5 linked regions of the Homo sapiens genome follow. The protein of the gene in region 3 purifies or fractionates together with the protein of the main gene of each other region. This does not show direct contact. Each region holds a gene or a part of one and is shown on either strand. Other genes may lie near its edges.

Region 1 (4,345 bases), on a different chromosome or scaffold from region 3:
ATTATCAACACTTCCAAAAGGAAGGCAGAGATCCACAAAAGTACTATGACTGGCCCCAAGACATGCAGCCGTTACGTTCATAGATTTCAGACTCAACCTTTGACTACAACTGTGGTGTCTTTTTCATGATTCTATTTTGCCTTAAAAACTGCTGTATAAGCATGGTGAAGTTCATTCTCCTCTCCAAATTCACTTCCTCATGAATAAAATATAAGAATAAATCAGCTAGCCCTGATGTGACACACAGTATACTTAGATTTTTCCTGGAAGTGGACCAGAAGTCAGAAGACCTAATCTTTGTCGCTACTTCCTGGGTGATTCTGGGTAAGTCACTTCCCTCACTGTCAGCCTGCTTCAGAGACTAAAAACAATCATAAATGAATTTTGTTTGGCCTACAAATGCTTACTTTTTAAAACTAACTTTTAAAATGGGATAACATTTAATAATCAGAGCACTTCACAAAAAATTCAAACAACCAGCTTCTCTCTCTCTCTTTTTTTTAAATTTTAAATTCAAGTCAAACTGCCTAGATATGAAGGTTAGCTGTTTTATAGTGTGCAAGTAGCTTCACCTCTCTCTAGGCCTACTTGCTCATTTTAAAAACATGGATAATAATAGCACCCATCTTAGAGTTGTTGTTAAGATTAAATGAGTCAGTAGAACAGAACCTCACATTTGGTAAGCAATCAAAAAATGTTAGTTACTATGTATTAGGTTCCCTGCTTAGCTCCTATCAGCATTTAACTTGGAACCACTTTTTTTTTGTTTTTTTTTAACACAGGGTCTGGAGTGCAGTGGCATGAACATGGCTCACTGCAGCCTCGACTTTCCAGGCTCAAGTGATCCTCCCACCTCAGCCTCCAGAGTAGCTGGGACTATAAGCACAAGCCACCAGGTCCAGCTAATGAAAAAATTTTTTTTGTAGAGACAGAGTCTCACTATGTTACCCAGGCTGGTCTCGAACTCCTGGGCTCAAGCAGTCTTCTCACCTCAGCCTCCCAAAGTGCTGGGATTGCAGCCGTGAACCAACACACTCAGCCTGGGACCACTCTTGACCACCCCTAATCCCTTCCCAGAGTTCTGGAACCAGCCCTGTCCTTTCCTATTCCATATTTCGGCATGTTTTAACAGACCTCTCTGAGTGGTCTGTGCTCCCAACCCTTAGCCTCCAGACTGATTGCCCTTTTTCCTTCTCACATAAAAAAGATATCGCCCAAGTTTCCAGGTCGTTAAATGCCTCTCTCATTCACGCCACATATCCACTTTCTTTTTGCATTGTCAATTTTTTTTTCCTTCCCCTTTCTTCTGTTTAAAAGCCCATGTTAGATGGTCGGAATGAGCCTTGTCTAGGTCCTGGGCCAGGATTTGCCAGTAAAGCACTGAATAACTGTGGTCAAGTATTTTCCCTCTTCTTATTTCCTCATGTGTAACATGAGTGGGTTTTACTGCTGGAGATGTAATGATCCATTTAAGTACAAAATTCTGATTTCTTCTTTCTTCTCTCCATCAGTTTTAGAGCATACATGTGATGACTCGTCATGCACCCATTATATTTTCTTTTTCTTTTCTTTTCTTTTTTTTTTTTTGAGACAGAGTCTCGCTGTGTTGCCCAGGCTGGAGTGCAGTGGCACGATCTTGGCTCACTGCAACCTCTGCCTACGGGGTTCAAGTGATTCTCCTGCCTCAGCCTCCCGAGTAGCTGGGACTACAGGCACGGGCCACGATGCCCATCTAATTTTTGTATTTTTGGAAGAGACGGGGTTTCACCATGTTGGCCAGGCTGGTCTTGAACTCCTGACCTCAAGTGATCCCCGGCCTCAGCCTCCCAAAGTGCTGGGATTACAGACGTGAGCCACTGCGCCCAGCCTATTTTCCTTGACCACCATGTCTCTCAATTTTCCTTCACCATCATGTCTCTCAATTTTCCTTCTGTCTCTTGTTCCAAAGGGCTCAGGATATTCTCTGTTCTCAGCACACTTCCATCTGTGTATTTCCTTAGCAGGGTGTGAGTGATGCAAAGGTGTTCGGCTTTCTAAGGGAAGGGCTGACTTACTAATGACTGACCTATTTATGGTGAGGAAAACGATTTTCTAGGGAAAGCCAGGATAACTAACAATGAAACTGATAGACACACATGGGATAACTGTGTGAGTAATGACTGGGTGCCTTGCAGGGGTGTAACTTACCAAGAGACCGACTTAGCGGGAGCCTAACTAACCAATGAACAGGGCAGGTTCTGAAGGGAGTGGATTTTCTCATGAACTGATTTTCAAAGGGACTAACCGTTGACTCATAAGGGCACTGACCTGATTGTGAACCCACGGGCCGCTTGCTTACCTTCTTGGTAGATGGATGTCGCCCCAGCTGCCCTCTGGCTGACCAGGTGACTGACGTGGTGGAGGCTGAGGAACGCTGGCTCCTGGCGAACTCCCTGACTATGCTTAATCTCACCGCCTGACTGTTCAGATTTAGCCTCTGTCTGACCAAAGGGCTCTCAGGGGCCTCACTGGCACGAGAGCCGCCCTGGTGGCCTAACCGACCTGCGGCTGCCCCACGGCCCAAGGATCCGCTGACTGACGCTGACTGGAAGCCCAGTTAGTGCAGTTTCAATGAAGGAACCCAACAACCGCCAACAACTGCCAGGGACCCAACAACCGCCAGAACCCAACAACTGCCAGGGACGCCAACAGGCCAGGCACAGCCTTATGCGACTAGGGATCCTCAGTCGGCTGCACAGAGATAGCGGCGTGAGGGGCGTGATAGCCGCTGCAAGACCTGCTAGCTCGCATCCTTAGGTGAGTGCATCCACCCGCAGCCAATCAGCGGCTGCATGGGCTTACTTTACACAGCCAATCAGAGGCTGCATGTGCTTATTTTACAACCAATGAGAGGCTGCATGGGCTTATGTTGCAGCCAATCAGAGGCTGCATGGGCTTATTTTATAGCCAATCAGAGGCTGCATGAGCTTTTTCTACAGCCAATCAATGAAGCAGAAGCATTGTGCCCACAGGCGTGTGCCCCTGGGAGCTGATGCACGGCTGCCAGAGTCAATCAGGAACTGCAACTGCAACTCCCTCCTCCAACCTTTGTGCCCAATTGGATCTTGAGGGCTTGAGCCAATCCGCAGCTGGGGGCGGTGCCAGGGTAGTTTGTGGGCCAATTTTCTTCCCAGCAAGGCCTTTCCAGCCCGTGCTGATGAAACCACACTCCTCTCCAACCCTGAGGACTCCGTTCCTCTTGTTTAACCCTGTTTATTTTTTCTCACACTTTATCCGTCACGCACTTTCTTACCCATTACACTTTCAAAATGACAGAGGCATTTGAGCCAGAGCAACTCCGTCTTGAATAGGAGCTGGGTAAAATGAGGCTGAGACCTGCTGGGCTGCATTCCCAGAGGGCTAAGGCATTCTAAGTTACAGGATGATATAGGCGGTCAGCACAAGATACAGGTCATAAAGACCTTGCTGATAAAACAGGTTGCAGTAAAGAAACCAGCCAAGGCTGGGCTCGGTGACTCACGCCTGTAATCCCAGCACTTTGGGAGGCTGAGGCGGGCGGATTACCTGAGGTCAGGAGTTTGAGACCAGCCTGCCAACATGGCGAAACCCTGTCTACTAAAAATACAAAAATTAGCTGGGCGTGGTGGCAGGCACCTGTAACCCCAGCTACTTGGGAGGTTGAGGCAGGAGAATCGCTTGAATCCGCGAGGTGGAAGTTGCAGTGAGCCGAGATTGCACCACTGCACTCCAGCCTGGGCAACAGAGTGAGACTCTGACTCAAAAGGAAAAAAAAAAAAAAGAAGCCAGCCAAATCCCACCAAAACCAAGATGACAATGAGAGTGACCTCTGGTAATCCTCACTGCTACACTCCTACCAGCACCATGACGGTTCACAAATGCCATGGCAACGTCAGGAAGTTACACTATATGGTCTAAAAAGGGGAGGCATGAATAATTCACCCTTTCTTTAGCATGTCATCAAGAAATAACCATAAAAATGGGCAACCAGCAGCCCTCGGGGCTGCTCTATGAAGTAATCATTCTTTTATTCTTTTACTTTCTTAATAAACTTGCTTCCACGTTACTCTATGGAATAGCCCTGAATTCTTTCTTGCAAGAGATACAAGAATCCTCTCTTGGGGTCTGGATCAGAACCCCTTTCCTGTAACAAAAACACTTTGTGCTAAATATCATTTGCTAATGGTATTTTTGTTTATGGTTTGACTGTGCCACTAGAATAGAAGCTCACTTTTTGGTTTTGTTTTATGGTACATGGGAGACCTCCACTCCCTATTACAACAGTCTCCACCTCCCTGTTGCAGCAGTTCCCCTTCCACTGCTGCAA
Region 2 (3,776 bases), on a different chromosome or scaffold from region 3:
ACCCTGCCCGGTGCTCCGGTGTGCGGGGGAGGGTGCTGAGGCAGAGGCCCAGGGAGGGGTTAACGTTAGCATGGGGCCCGGCGGATGTGGGTCTCGCCGCTGAGTGGGGCTCACTGAAGCCTGGGTCTCCCCGATGGCAGGGCCGGGAACTGTGTGCTGGGGAACTGTGTGCCAGGGTGAAGTGCTGGCACTGTGGGGTCACCTGCAGAAGGGCACTCGGCTTAGCTGCTTAGCAGGGCTCAGCAGGGTCCTGTGGCCTCAGGAGCCTGCAGGAGGAGGGAGGGCAGTGCGGACCCACAGCTGTGGGCCCAGGGGTGATCCTTGGCACCAGGGCAAGGGTCTTTCTCTTGCATCTTTTTTCCTTTCTGAAAGCAGACCTCCAGGTTCCTCCTACTTCCGCTATGCTGAGTCTTCCATGAAGAACAGCTTCGGCCTAAAGTACCTTCATAAGTTCTTCAATATCCCATTTTTGCAGCTTCAGGTAAGCACTCACCACGTGGGGTGGAGTGGCTGCTGGTCTCTCACCTCCTTCCAGGTGTCTCCTGTGTAGCAACGGGTCTCCCTCCTAACCCCTGAGAAAGCTGTGGACCTGCTCGGAGATTGGCTGCTGGCAAGGGCCCAGCGTTCTACTGCACCTGCCTGCTCTGGGTGGCAGAGGGTACAGGGTCCTGAGGGCTAGACCCAGTCCCAGGAGCCCCTCCACCTCTGCGGGGACCCCTTGCTCAGTTTCCCCCAGTGTTTTTGGTTGTTTTTGTTTGTTGAGATAAGGTCTTGCTGTGTGGCCCAGGCTGGAGTGCAGTGGCGCAATCATGGCTCACTGCGGCCTCAAACTCCGGGGCTCAGGCAATCCTCCCACCTGTCTCCCAAAGTGCTGGGATGCCAGGCGTGAGTCACCGAGGTACTCGCTGTTCACATCTCACATTTCCCTGGTGCTTGTGTCAAAACCAAGGAACCAACTTTGGCCTACGGACTAAACTCACTTTCCTTTGTAGAAACAAGGGCCAGGCCAGCTGTGGCTGCAAAGTAGCCCAGCAAATGATGAGGCTTGAACCTCCTCGCCCTGGGCTGCCCTGATTGGGTCTGGGGGACCTGAACCTCCTCGCCCTGGGCTGCCCTGACTGGGTCTGGGGGACCTGAACCTCCTCGCCCTGGGCTGCCCCAGCTGGGTCTGGGGACCTGAACCTCCTCGCCCTGGGCTGCCCCGCCTGGGTCTGGGGACCTGAACCTCCTCGCCCTGGGCTGCCCCGCCTGGGTCTGGGGACCTGAACCTCCTCGCCCTGGGCTGCCCCACCTGGGTCTGGGGACCTGAACCTCCTCGCCCTGGGCTGCCCCAGCTGGGTCTGGGGGACCTGAACCTCCTCGCCCTGGGCTGCCCCAGCTGGGTCTGGGGGACCTGAACCTCCTCGCCCTGGGCTGCCCCAGCTGGATCTGGGGGACCTGAACCTCCTCGCCCTGGGCTGCCCCGCCTGGGTCTGGGGGACCTGAACCTCCTTGCCTGGGCTGCCCCGCCTGGGTCTGGGGGACCTGAACCTCCTCGCCCTGGGCTGCCCCAGCTGGGTCTGGGGGACCTGTACCTCCTCGCCCTGGGCTGCCCCGCCTGGGTCTGGGGGACCTGAACCTCCTCGCCCTGGGCTGCCCCGACTGGGTCTGGGGGACCTGAATCTCCTCACCCTGGGCTGCCCCAGCTGGGTCTGGGGACCTGAACCTCCTCGCCCTGGGCTGCCCCAGCTGGGTCTGGGGGACCTGAACCTCCTCGCCCTGGGCTGCCCCGACTGGGTCTGGGGGACCTGGGGCCCAGCTGCAGCTGCAGCAGCCTTGGTCTTTCTCCAGAAGGATGTCAGGCTTGCCCAGGAAAGGGGCTGTGCTGTCGTCCTGGTGTCAGAAGAAGTGAGGATGCCTGCAGGCTGGGACTGCTGCTGGGGACGTTTGGGTTGGAAGGAAGGCGGCAGTCAGACTTGTCCTGTGCCGGCACTGCTGGGGAGGCCCCTCCTTCCTGCAGAGCCGTCCCCTCATCACTGGGTTGATTACTCCTTAGAGAGCTCCCCACTGCTCAGCTGCTCCATTCCCTAATGGTTTGCCCTCCAAACCCTTCCAAAGCCTCCCAGGGAGAGAACGGGACCCTGGACAGAGTCTTGAGCTGGAAGCGTAGGGCTGAGCTGTGTGTGACTATCCTTTTGCTATGGATGTGTTCAAGCAGATCTGATGTCCTCGCCTGTCTCAGCAGCGGGACCCCTGTTTCCTCTTTGTCTTGCCCCTGGATTGCCTGGAAGCAAATTTCAGGCCTTCTTTATGTCACCTAAAAATATTTCAAACACATCTCTAAAAAAATCAGTTGTTTTTTTAACCTGACCGTAGTACCTAATGTAATACCGCATGTTAAACTCACAGAAGGTTTTTCTTGGAGAAATAAGCCACAATAACAAATTGAAAAAATAAAATTCCCAAAGAGTTCTTCCAGTCGTCAGATATTTGGTCAGTATTCAGAGTAGGATCCAGAGTTCACACATTACATTTGGTTGACAAGTCTGTAGATTTCTCTTTGTAAATCACATTTTTTTGTTGTTGTTATAGCCTGGGGACCTTAATGACTTTAATACACTCTTTTTTTTGGAGACGGAGTCTCACTCTGTCCAGGCTGGAGTACGGTGGTGCAATCTTGCCTCACTGTAACCTCTGCCTCCTGGGTTCAAGCGATTCTCCTGCCTAAGCCTCCCAAGTAGCTGGGATTACAGGCGCCTGCCACCACGCCTGGCTAATTTTTGTATTTTTAGTAGGGACGGGGTTTTGCCATATTGGCCAGGACGGTCTCGATCTCTTGACCTCGTGATCTGCCCGCCTTGGCCCCCCCAAAGTGCTGGGATTACAGGTGTGAGCCACCACGCCCAGCCTCACATTTTTATTTTAAAAACCTCTCCAGGCTGGGCGCAGTGGCTCACGCCTATAATCCCAGCTGTTAGGGAGGCAGAGGTGGGAGGACAGCTCGAGCCCAGGAGTTCCAGATCTTCTGCCTGGGCAATATAATATAGCATGACCCTGTTCTAAAAAAAAAAAAAAAAAAAAAATCTCTGAAAAAGATGATTCAAAAAAAAAAAAAGGAGAGGCCAGGCAAGTAGCTCAGGCCTGTAATTTCAGCAGAGGCCAAGCTGGGAGGATCACTTGAGTCCAGGAATTAGAGACCAGTCTGGGCAACATAGCGAGACCCCATCTCTATTTAAAAAAAGAGAAGGGGCCGGGCACGGTGGCTCCCGACTGTCATCCTCGCACTTTGGATGCTGAGGCAGCTGGATCACCTGAGGTCAGGAGTTCGTGAGGCTCCGGCGTTTGTATTTCATTTGAATCTAAAGTGAGCAGCCACAGGGACCCGCAGCTCATCAGACCAGCCTGGGGTTCCAGGCCAGGAGGGCAGTGGTTTGCTCCAGAGCCAGCTGCTTGTGGGTGTGGGACGGTGGCGACGCGTGCACCGGGGATGTGTCCTGCCACCAGAGGAGGTGTGCGTGGCGGGGAGCAGAGGGGCTTTGTTTCCCAGGTGAAGGTGCGGCTTCTTCACTCTTAGAGGTGCGTGTGTGGGTGGGGGTGCTTGCTGTTGAGGTTTATGCCTGTGACTGACAGCTGTCCCCCAAGCCATGCTGGCAGTGTGTAGGTGTCGTGCCGGCCACCGCAGAGGAATCCTCTGGGCTTCTGTGGTTCAAGTGGGGCCCAGCGCAGAGCTCCATGAGTTGCTGAGCAGCCAGCCCTGCAGCATCTCCTGGTTTTGGCAGCAGGAGGCGTCCCCTGTG
Region 3 (3,776 bases):
GCTGACTGACCCAATTGGGAGGTGGCAGGGAGGAGATCGCTAGTTGACTGGGCTAATGGAAAGTCAACTAAACTTATAAAGCCTGAAATTGGGAACAGATTGTGAGGACAAAAAAAAAGAAAAGAAAAGAAAACCTGGAATTCGGCCCGGCACGGTGGCTCACAGGAAGTAGTGGGCCAAATGTTTGAGTCTCTGATTGATTCGCTAAGGTTTGTTGTTGTCGTTTAGAGACAGGGTTTCGCTTTGCGGCCTGGGCGGGAGTGCAGTGATGCGATCATGGCACAATGCACCTTTGATTTCCTGGGCTCAAGCAATCCTCCCACCTCAGCCTCCTGAGTGGCTGGGACTACAGGCGCACACCACTACGCCTGGCTAGTTTTATTTTTTGTAGAGGTGAGGTTTCACTGTATTACCCAGGCTGGTCTTGAACTCCTGGGCTCAAGCAATCCTTCCACCTTGGCCTCCCAAAGTGTTGGAACTGCAAGTGTGAGCCACCATTCCTGGTCATTCACTGAGTATTTATTGAGTCCCTACTATTTGCAAGGCACCAAGGAGACACCATGACTAAAACAGGCAAAGATTCCTGCCTTTATGGAGTTTATATCCTGTGTGTGGAGAAAGAACAGCAACACATAGGCTAGTACCATGTATCCTGGCACATAGTGAAATGCTCTGCCAAGGTGCCAAGAAGGGAGGGAGGCTGCAAGTGCTGGAGGGGCATCGAAGAAGGCCTCCCTCATGAGAGATTGGAGGTGAGACCTGAAGGAGGTGAGGAGAGCTAGGCTGAAGAAAGCATTCCAGATAGCAGGGCCTGTAGATGCTGTGTTCTAGAGCCAGGGTGGGGCAGGAGGGGCTGTGCTATGTAGGGGTAGGTGGGAGGGATGAGCTGGGGAGATAAAGACAGAGCGATACCAGGCCAGGTCTGAGACAGCCCCCTGGGCTGTCACTGAGACTTTAGCTTTTTGCAGCCTACATAGCAGGGTGACTAACAACATGGTCTGTGGTGCCACACTGCCTGGGTTAGCATTCCAGCTCTGCCTTTTACTAGCTGTGAGGTGGGTTTTTTTCCTTTTTTGAGACAGAGTCTCTCTCTGTCACCTAGGCTGGAGTGCAGTGGCGCCATCTCAGCTCACTGCGACCTCTGCCTCCGGGGTTCAAGTGATTCTTCTGCCTCAGCCTCCTGAGTAGCTGGGACTACAGGCGCGCGTCACCATGCCCAGCTAATTTTTGTATTTTTAGTAGGGATGGGGTTTTACCATATTGGCCAGGCTGGTCTCAAACTCCTGACCTTGTGATTCACCCACCTTGGCCTCCCAAAGTGCTGGGATTACCAGCATGAGCCACCATGCCTGGCCTTTTTTTTTTTTTTTAAATACAGTTTCACTGTGTTCCCCAGGCTGCAGTGCACAATCACCAGTCACTGTAGCCTTGGCCTCCAGGTCTCCAGTGGTCCTCCTACTTTAGCCTCCCAAGTAGCTGGGACCACAGACATGTGTTACCACCACCAGCTAAAGTTTTTATTTATTTATTTATTTTTTGAGATGGCGTCTTTCTCTGTTGCCCAGGCTGGAGTGCAGTGGCGCTATCTCAGTTCACTGCAACCTCTGCCTCCCTGGTTCAAGCAGTTCTGTCTCAGTCTACCAAGTAGCTGGGATTATAGGTATACGCCATGATGCCCAGCTGGTTTTTGTTTTGTTTTGTTTTGTTTTTTGTATTTTTAGTAGAGATGGGGTTTCATCATGTTGGTCAGGCTGGTCTTGAACTCCTGACCTCAAGTGATTTGCCTGCCTCCCTCCATCCCACCATCCCAATTTTTTTTTTTTTTTTTTTTTTAGCTGGAGTCTCGCTCTATTGCCCAGGCTGGAGTGCAGTGGCACGATCTCGGCTCGCTGCAAGCTCCGCCTCCCGGGTTCATGCCATTCTCCTGCCTCAGCCTCCCGAGTAGCTGGGACCACGGGCGCCTGCCACCACGCCTGGCTAATTTTTTAATTTTGTTTAGTAGAGACGGGATTTCACCATGTTAGCCAGGATGGTCTCGATCTGACCTTGTGATCTGCCTGCCTTGGCCTCCCAAAGTGGTGGGTTTACAGGCGTGAGCCGCCACGCCCGGCTAACCCAATTATTTTTTATTTTTATTTATTTATTTTTTGAGGCAGAGTCTCACTCTGTTGCCCAGGCCAGAGTGCAGTGGGGCGATCTCAGCTGGGATTATAGGCTCTCGCCATCCTGCCTGGCTCATTTTTTTATTTTTAGTAGAGATGGGGTTTTGCTGTTTTGGCCAGGCTGGTCTCGAACTCCTGACCTCAAGTGATCCGCCTGCCTCAGCCTCCCAAAGTGCTGGGATTACAGGCTTGAGCCACCATGCCCAGCCAAATTTTTTTATTTTTTGAACTCCTGGCCTCAAGCAGTCCTGTTGCCTTGGCCTCCCAAAGTATTGGGATTACAGGTGTGAGCCACTGTGCCCGGTCACTAGGTGTGAGATCTTGAGTGAGCTACTTAACGGCCTTAAGGGTCCTCATCTGTCCAGTGGAGATAATAATACCTGTCCCATGGGGCTGTTGTGATCATTAAATTAGTTAAAGGACATAAATGTGGGTGAAGTAGTTGACACGGTTGATGCACAGTAAAAGCTAGTCTTTTACTTCTAAGCCATATGGGGTGAGGGGGCATTGGAGAGCTGAGCAGAGGAAGCCTGAGATCTTACTTAGGTTCCCAAAGGCTGTCCTGGCTGCCATGTTGAGACTACAGCAAGGATGGAAACAGGCCAGTCTGGATTCTGCTGTACTAAGCCAGGTAAAAGATGGTGGTGGTGTAGGCTAGATATGTTTGAAGAGAGTTGATGGGGTTTGCTGATGGATTGATTTGATGTGGGCATGCAAGAAATAGAAGAATGTGGGAGGATAAGGTTGGTGAATTGGAGGCAAACTGGTATTTAATTTTAGACATGTTTCTCTCGTGTGTGTGTGTGTTTTGTTTTGTTTGTTTGTTTGTTTGTTTTGAGACAAAGTCTCTGTTGCCCATGTTGGAGTGCAGTGGTCAGATTACAGCTCACTGCAGCCTTGACCGCCTAAGCTCAGGTGATCCTCCCCTCCTAAGCCTCCCAAGTAGCCAGGACTACAAAGGCGTGCCACCATGTCCAACTAATTTTTGTATTTGTAGTGGAGACGGGGTTTTGCCATGTTGTCCAGGCTGGTCTCAAACTCCTGGGCCCAAGCAATCCACCCTCCTTGGCTTCCCAAAGTGTTGGGATTACAGGCGTGAGGCACCATGCCTGTCCGACATGTTACGTTTTAAGATGCCTATTCAAGATCTAAGTGGAGATGTTGACTAGGCACTTGGATATACAAAGCTGGAATTCAGACAAGGAAGTTTGGGCTAGAGAGGAAAAGTTGGGAGTTATCAGTATGTATATGTTTATATATTTGTGATTTTTTTTTTTTTTTTTTTTTTTTTTTTTGAGATAGAGTTTTGCTCTTGTTGCCCAGGCTGGAGTGCAGTGCCTTGAATACTGAATTAGTGAATATTGAACCATTGCTCCTAGGGGAAATACAGGGTTAGGTTCCTGCAAGCCTCTGGTCATATTTTGTTCAACCAATCAATATATAACCGATCACTTGTTTTATGTGTGTATCTGTTTGGAGACAACTTACTTGACATAATATTGTTGAATCATTAACAGTGAAGTCAGCCAGGCGCAGTGGCTCACGCCTGTAATCCCAGCACTTTGGGAGGCCGAGGCGGGCGGATCATGAAGTCAGGAGATCAAGACCATCCTG
Region 4 (3,776 bases), on a different chromosome or scaffold from region 3:
TCCAAAGTCCAAAGGATAACACACAAAAAGCATTTTTTGGAAAATGAAATATAGTAAATGTTCTATTTCTTAGGCTGGGTGAGTTTTGTTATGTTGTTTGAATGCAAAACAAAGATGATATAGAAGTACTAGCTCTAAGAGAATAAAGCCACAGTATTTAAACTGTGGCCAGACATGATGGCTTATGCCTGTACACCCAGCACTCTGGGAAGCTCAGGCGGAAGGATCTCTTAAGACCAGGAGTTGTAGGTTGCAGTAAGCTATGATCAGGCCACTGCACTCCAGCCTGGGCAAGATCCTGTTTCTAAAAATATAAAAAATAAACCTAATGTGGTTTGTATAACTGTCCCCTCCCAATCTCATACTGAAATGTGATCCCCAGTGTTGGAGGTGGGGCCTGGTAGGAGGTGTCTGGGTCATGGGAGAGGACCCCTCATGAATGGGTTGGTGTCCTCTCCACAGTAATGAATTCACATGAGATCTGGCTGTTTAAAGCCAGGCATGGTGGCTCCCAGCACTTTGGGAGGCTGAGGCAGGCAGACTGACTGAGCCCAGGAATTTGACACCAGCCTGGGCCACATGGCGAAATCTCATCTCTACGAAAAATAATTAGCCAGGTGTGGTGGCGCCTGCCTGTAGTCCCAGCTACTGGGATTGCTTGAGCCTGGGAGGTCAAGGTTGCAGTGAGCCATAACTGCACCAATGAATTCTAGCCTAGGCGACAGTGAGACCCTGTCTTTAAAAAAAAAAAAAAAAAAAAGGCCTGGTACCTCCTCACTCCCCACTCTCATCATGTGAGTATCCTGCTCTCCCTTTGCCTTCTGACATGATTGGAAGCTTCCTGACACCCTCACCAGAAGGTAGGCAGCTGCTGGTGTCATGCCTGCACAGCCTGCAGAACCATGAGGCAAAATAAACCTCTTTTCTTCATAAATTATCCAGTTTCACATATTCCTTTATAGCAACACAGGCTAACGTATTTCTAATTCAAACTTTGAATCCAGGTTCTAGCACTTAATAATACATGTAACATTGTGCTTTACTATATTCTGTCTTCCTCCCTTTCATATCCAAGCTTCTAGAAAAGAGGAGTACTTATTTCTCCAGACTTCATCATGGTGCCTAGCACAAAGGAGTTCAAAAAAATGTTTAATAAAGTTTTTCAAATTTAACAGCCTTTGAATCTATAGGGCAAAATTGGTTTTAAGACTTTTCCAATTTAAGCACACTACAGAGAACATCGAAACACTCTATTATTAGAAATAGGGGCCAGGCGCGGTGGCTCACACCTGTCATCCCAGCACTTCGGAAAGCTGAGGTGGGTGGATCACCTGAGGTCAGGAGTTCAAGACCAGCCTCACTAACAGGGTGAAATCCCGTCTCTACTAAATACAGAAAACTAACCAGGTGTGGTGGCGCATGCCTATAATCCCAGCTACTTTGGGAGGCTGAGGCAGGAGAATCACTTGAACCCGGGAGGCGGAGATTGCAGTCAGCCGACACTGCACCATTGCACTCCAGCCTGGGCAACAAGAGCGAAACCCCGTTTCAAAACAAACAAGTCTCAAAACAAACAAAAGTGTATGGCCGGGCCGCGGTGGCACACGCCTGTAATCCCAGCACTTTGGGAGGCTAAGGCGGGCGGATCACGAGGTCAGGAGATCGAGACCATCCTGGCTAACAAGGTGAAATCCCGTCTCTACTAAAAATACAGAAACAAAATTAGCAGGGCGTGGTGACGGGAACCTGTAGTCCCAGGTACCCGGGAGGCTGAGGAGGGAGAATGGCGTGAACCCGGGAGGCGGAGCTTGCAGTGAGCCAAGATCGTGCCACTGCACTCCAGCCTGGGCGACAGAGCGAGACTCTGTCTCAAAAAAAAAAAAAGAAAGAAATAGGCCAGGCACTGTGGCTCACACCTGTCATCTCAGCACTTTGGGAGGCCAAGGCGGGAGAATGGCTGAGGTCAGGAGTTGGTTAGAGACCAGTCTGGCCAACATGGTGAAACCCCGTCTCTACTAAAAACAAGAAATGTAGCAGCCAGCCACGGCTGCATACGCTTGTCATCCCGACTACTTGGGAAGCTGAGGCATGGGAATCGCTTGAACCGGGGAGGTGGAGGTAGCTGTGAGCTGAGATGGTGCCACTACACTCCAGCCTCAGCAACACAGCCTGACTGTCTCAAAAAGAAAAACTATATTATTAGAAAGAATATCTCATATAAAGGTATATGAAAACACAAACACACATGAAACACCTACGTTCAGTACTGTACAAAATTAAACAGAATCCCAGCCTTTTATGACATGCCAGCACTGGCAACCTATAAAAAGTAATTTACTAAGTTTCAATTCCTTTCCAAAGGCTAGATAGGCAGAGCAGGAACGTTCTACTGGCTTTGAATGAAGATACTGTTCATGGCCGGGCGCGGTAGCTCAAGCCTGTAATCCCAGTACTTTGGGAGGCCGAGGCTGGCGGATCACAAGGTCAAGAGACCCAGACCATCCTGGCCAACATGGTGAAACCCTGTCTCTACTAAAAATACAAAAATTAGCTGGGCGCGGTAGCGCGCTGTAGTCCCAGCTACTTGGGAGGCTGAGGCAGGAGAATCGCTTGAACCTGGGAGGCAGAGGTTGCAATAAGCCAAGATCACGCCACTGCACTCCAGCCTGGCGACAGAGCAAGACTCCGCCACCAAAAAATTAATTAATTAATTAAATTAAATACTGTTCGGCCGGGTGCGGTGGCTCACGCCTGTAATCCCAAGGCAGGTGGATCACGAGGTCAGGAGATCGAGACCATCCTGGCTAACACGGTGAAACCCCATCTCTACTAAAAATACAAAAAAAATTAGCCGGGCGTGGTGGTGGGCACCTGTAGTCCCAGCTACTGGGGAGGCTGAGGCAGGAGAATGGCATGAACCCGGGAGGCGGACCTGGCAGTGAGCCGACATCGCGCCACTGCACTGTAGCCTGGGCGACAGAGCGAGACTCCGTCTCAAAAAAAAAAAAAAAAAAAAATTACTTCTGCTTGCCTGTCTTCTCCACTACACTATGAATTCCTAAAAGGCAAAAATCACCAAATCTTATTCCTGGGCATTCGACAAGGTCACAGTGCCTTTGGACTAACAGGTCCTAAATGTAATAAATTAGGATAACAGGATACTGTATAGCAGGATATTATTAGGATACTAGCAGAGACAAGAAATAGGCATGTTAAACAATAAAATCAATTTTTTAAAACTCAAGATTGGGCCCAATTATTTTTAAGTATACACTGGTTCAGTATTAAACAAAACAAAATTCTTAAAATTACTAGGCCAGATACTAAAAACAGAATACTATAAATCAGTTTTCTGTGTGAAATACACAAATTCCTGCAGTAACTGAATTCCACCACAGAAAATGGAACTCTAATCTAGTTCAACAATTATATTGCAACATGTACCAAGCAAACATTTCTATAAACCACTTTGTATGCAATGGTACTTTTTTTCTTTTTGACTAATAAAAAGACGAATTGTCATTTAAATGTAAACTACCAGTGGACCCAGAAACTTCAAGCCTTTCAGAAATTTCTTACCAACTTAATTCAAACATTTTAAAATCACAAACTACTTTTAAAACACCGTGTTAGTAAAGGAATGCAAGGTCAAGAAGATAACCTTCTTCCTGACTTTAAGGAGTTTACAATCTAGAAAAGGAGATATATAGTCAATTATCAGAGTATCAGACACAAAGAATAAATGCTACTACAATAGAGGTACATATGCTGTGAGA
Region 5 (3,776 bases), on a different chromosome or scaffold from region 3:
AGAAGCATGGAGCCTTGAAGTATCCTCAGAGTTGTGAGAGAAGACACCAGAGAAGTTGGCACGGGCCAAATTGTGAAGGTTTTTTTCTGTCATTCTTAAGGAGATTGGGTTTTATTCTAAAGGCAGATGAGGCATCATTGAGTGTGTAAGGAGAAGAGAAACATTTAACCTGGTTTTAGAAAGGACACCCTGGCAGCAGTGTAGACACTGCGTTGTGAGGATTTCTTCAGGGAGAAGATTGTTGTAGTCATCCAGTTGAGACATCATGAGCATCACCAAGTCATTGTCATTGGGTTCACCAGTTAGGGTGCTTGTGACAAGTGACAGAAAAGTCAGCTTGACTAAGACAGGGAATTTATTGACTTGTGTAAATGAAAAGACCCTGTGTTAGAAATGTCTTGCAGTATGGTTTGAACCAGAGACTCACAGTTGTCACACTGGGGCTCTAGCTCTTATTTTCTGTGTCCTTTTCACTCTGGGTTCGTTCTCAAGTTGGTTCTGTGCTCTGGCTGCCCTCTCAGGGTGGTAGCAATGGTTGCAACAGTTTCGGACATTACCTCCTCACATTCCATTGCCCGGAGAAAGTGAGTGTCTCATTTATAGCAACAGTTTCGGACATTACCTCCTCACATTCCATTGCCCGGAGAAAGTGAGTGTCTCATTTATAGCAACAGTTTCGGACATTACCTCCTCACATTCCATTGCCCGGAGAAAGTGAGTGTCTCATTTATAGCAACAGTTTCGGACATTACCTCCTCACATTCCATTGCCCGGAGAAAGTGGGAGTGTCTCATTTATATACGTGTGTGTGTAGAGCTGGCCTGGAACTCCTGGCCTCAAGTCATTGTCCCACCTCAGCCTCCTAACGTGCTGGGATTACAGCACTTTGCTGGGCACAGCTCCAGGCCTCTTTTCTTTTAAGTCCTCCATCACTCTCACCTTCCAGCCTCACTCCCAAGATTCTTTCCCAGAAGTTCCAGCAAACATATCCGTTCACGTTAATGGCTTGAATTAAGTTAACTTGTGGTGCTGTGGGTAGAAAGAATATACTGATGAATCCACTCTGGAGTTGAGAGGAGTTCCCAAAGGAAAATATGGATATTAGAGCAAGAGAGGTTATCAATGGATAGATTGGAGGGAAGAGAATAATTTTAAGAGACATTTTAAAATAGAATGGGAAAGTGAGGGAGAGGGAGACATCTGGATTATTCTCAGGTTTAGGTGAAGGGATAGATGTTGATTTCCTTTGCCAAAATAGGAATGGAGGAAAAGTAGATTAAAGGTGTGTGAAAAGAAAATAAAAACTTGGGACCCCAGTTCACTATGCCAAAAGGAAAAAATTAAGCTGAAAGCTGAGTCGTGCAAGAAACTGCCTTTCCTTTTGTTCCTAAGCAGGTAGCTACAGATAAAAAATTAAATATCTCTACAGGTAGCTACTCTATGTTCACCGTATCTTACGTGAAGTGCCGATTTACTGAGCACCAGATGAATACATAATTGACTATTCCTCTACCTGCTCCTTTTCTCTTGCAACATATAGATTACCATACCCTTCTTTCCCCTCCAGCTCACTTTTCCCCTTGAAATATTGAAGCCCTCAAAATCATCTTTGGAGAAAGGCACAGACCTCTCTCCTGGGCGTGTCCTTAACGTTGGCAAAATAAACTTCTAAATTGATTGAGGCCTGTCCCAGATACTTTTTGGTTTACAGGTGTAAGATGATTAATCCAGGAATTGGAAAAGTAGTATTATGTCCCTTTCTTCAGTCTTCTTTCCTGTGTTAACATCCCTAGCTCCCTCATCCGTTCCTGGTATGACCTAGGTGCAAGTGTTTGAACACAGCCCTCTCAGAAGAGGCTCTTAGAACTGCAAATAACAGCATATCTAAGACAGTTCATGAAAGAGCAATCTGTTGTTTCCCTGCACTCTTCTTCTTCTATACTTAATGCTTTCTGGGGATTGCTCTAGTTTTTAGCATTTTCCTTGCTGACTTTGCTGTATATTAGAATTCTGAGCCTTTTTTTCTTCTTTTTAATAGGAGCTGCTCATCTAGGTTTTGTTCATTTTCTACTGTTCACTTGATGTTTCGGAATGAAATGTAGGAATTTGTAGTTTTCCTTGTTGCATTTTATTTGTTTAAATTTGGCCAAGAATTCTAGCTCTTGAAATTTTTTCAGAGCATTCAATGTTTCATTCAATGTATCTGCTTACCATTTCTTAGCTGTGTGCCATTCTTGATTTTTAAAAAACTTTTTGTTAAAGACATTTTCAAACATAAGCAAAAGTTGAGAGAGTAGTAAAATGAATCCATATCATCCTGCTTCAGCAGCCATCAATACATGGTCAGTCTTGTGTCATGGGTATCCCCACCCACTTTTCCCCCCATTCACTGGATTATTTTGAAGCAAATCCTAGACATTGGATCATTTTTCATCCTTAAATGCTTCAGTATGCATCTCTAAAAACAGATTCTTATTAAAATGTAGCCACAATACCATTGTCACACCTAAAAAGTCAATACTTCCTTGATGTCATTAAATATCTAGTTGGTGTTCAAATTTTTCCCACCATGTTATAATTTTTCTTTTTTTCTTTCTTTTTTTACAATTTTACCTTTGATTATGATCAGCATGTTTTCTCTTTTTGTTTGTTTTTTCTCAGGCTGGAGTGTAGTGGCAGGATCTGAGTTCACTGCAACCTCTGCCTCCCAAGTTCAAGCAATTGTCCTGCCTCATCCTCCTGAGAAGCTGGGATTACAGGCATCCACCACCACGCCTGGCTAATTTTTTTTGTATTTTTAGTAGAGACGGAGTTTCACCATGTTGGCCAGGCTGGTATCGAACCCTTGACCTCAGATGATCTGCCTGCCTTGGCCTCCCAGAGTGCTGGAGTTACAGACATGAGCCACCATGCCCAGCCTCAGCATGTTTTCTTGATAGGTCAAATTATTTTTTTAAATGTCTTAGTCATTTAAAACTGCTTTTAGAGTCCCACCACTGTATTCATGGAAACGTTTTGTTTAGGGTCATTCAACCAGTTGGTTATTTGGTTGCTCTATTCCATCTTACTCTGTCACCCTGGTTTGCCTCCTTCCTCCTTCCCCACTTCAGTCTATTCTCAATATAGCTGCCAGATAGTATTATGTTGAAGCTTAAGTCAACTCACATCTCTCCCCTCCTCAAAACTCTACAGTGGCTTCCTGGCTTAGATGAAAAGATAGTCTATACATGACCCAAAAGGCCCTATGTAATTCTCTTCCCCATTTGCTTCTACTTTTCTATCTGTCTCACTTTGTTGTGGCCACACTGGCTTCCTCCTCACTGTTCCTTGAATATGCCAAGCATGTTCCCACTTCAGTGCCTTTGCATTTGCTGTTTCCCTTGTTTGAAATGCTCTTCTTTTGGATATCCATGTGCCTTTCCCTTCGTCTTCATGTTTTCTCTCAAACTGCATTTCCTGATGCCTTCTCTGGCCATTCCAGCTAAAATCTTAACTTCCAACACGGTCCTACCCCTTCTCCCTGTCTTATTTTTTCTCCTTAGTATTTATCATTATCTTGTTTATTGTCTCTTTTCCTACTTAGAAAGGAGGCTCTGTGGCCGAGCGCGGTGGCTCACGCCTGTAATCCCAGCACTTTGGGAGGCCAAGGCGGGTGGATCACAAGGTCAGGATTTCAAGACCAGCCTGGCCAACATGGTGAAACGCCGTCTCTACTAAAAATACAAAAATTCTCTGGGCATGGTGGCAGATGCCTGTAATCCCAGCTATTCGGGAGG

What was found.
Region 1: the proteins of NUP85 (region 3) and SIGLECL1 purify together in Homo sapiens (co-immunoprecipitation; one large-scale study listed by IntAct). This does not show direct contact.
Region 2: the proteins of NUP85 (region 3) and RABL6 fractionate together in Homo sapiens (co-fractionation; one large-scale study listed by BioGRID). This does not show direct contact.
Region 4: the proteins of NUP85 (region 3) and AHCTF1 purify together in Homo sapiens (pull-down; one study listed by IntAct). This does not show direct contact.
Region 5: the proteins of NUP85 (region 3) and RIC3 purify together in Homo sapiens (co-immunoprecipitation; one large-scale study listed by IntAct). This does not show direct contact.

What each region holds. Positions count from the first base shown.
Region 1 is NC_000019.10:51,249,539-51,253,883, reverse strand, and holds the start of SIGLECL1 (SIGLEC family-like protein 1), read right to left. Parts: upstream 2,805-4,345; 5' UTR 2,339-2,804; intron 1-2,338.
Region 2 is NC_000009.12:136,831,890-136,835,665, forward strand, and holds part of RABL6 (rab-like protein 6), read left to right. Parts: intron 1-372; coding exon of another isoform or gene 373-375; coding exon 376-481; intron 482-1,830; coding exon of another isoform or gene 1,831-2,070; exon of another isoform or gene 2,071-2,530; intron 2,531-3,776. UniProt on the Homo sapiens protein: May enhance cellular proliferation. May reduce growth inhibitory activity of CDKN2A.
Region 3 is NC_000017.11:75,219,068-75,222,843, forward strand, and holds part of NUP85 (nuclear pore complex protein Nup85), read left to right. Parts: intron 1-3,776. UniProt on the Homo sapiens protein: Essential component of the nuclear pore complex (NPC) that seems to be required for NPC assembly and maintenance. As part of the NPC Nup107-160 subcomplex plays a role in RNA export and in tethering NUP96/Nup98 and NUP153 to the nucleus.
Region 4 is NC_000001.11:246,925,307-246,929,082, forward strand, and holds part of AHCTF1 (protein ELYS), read right to left. Parts: intron 1-3,776. UniProt on the Homo sapiens protein: Required for the assembly of a functional nuclear pore complex (NPC) on the surface of chromosomes as nuclei form at the end of mitosis. May initiate NPC assembly by binding to chromatin and recruiting the Nup107-160 subcomplex of the NPC.
Region 5 is NC_000011.10:8,158,852-8,162,627, reverse strand, and holds part of RIC3 (protein RIC-3 isoform a precursor), read left to right. Parts: intron 1-3,776. UniProt on the Homo sapiens protein: Molecular chaperone which facilitates proper subunit assembly and surface trafficking of alpha-7 (CHRNA7) and alpha-8 (CHRNA8) nicotinic acetylcholine receptors.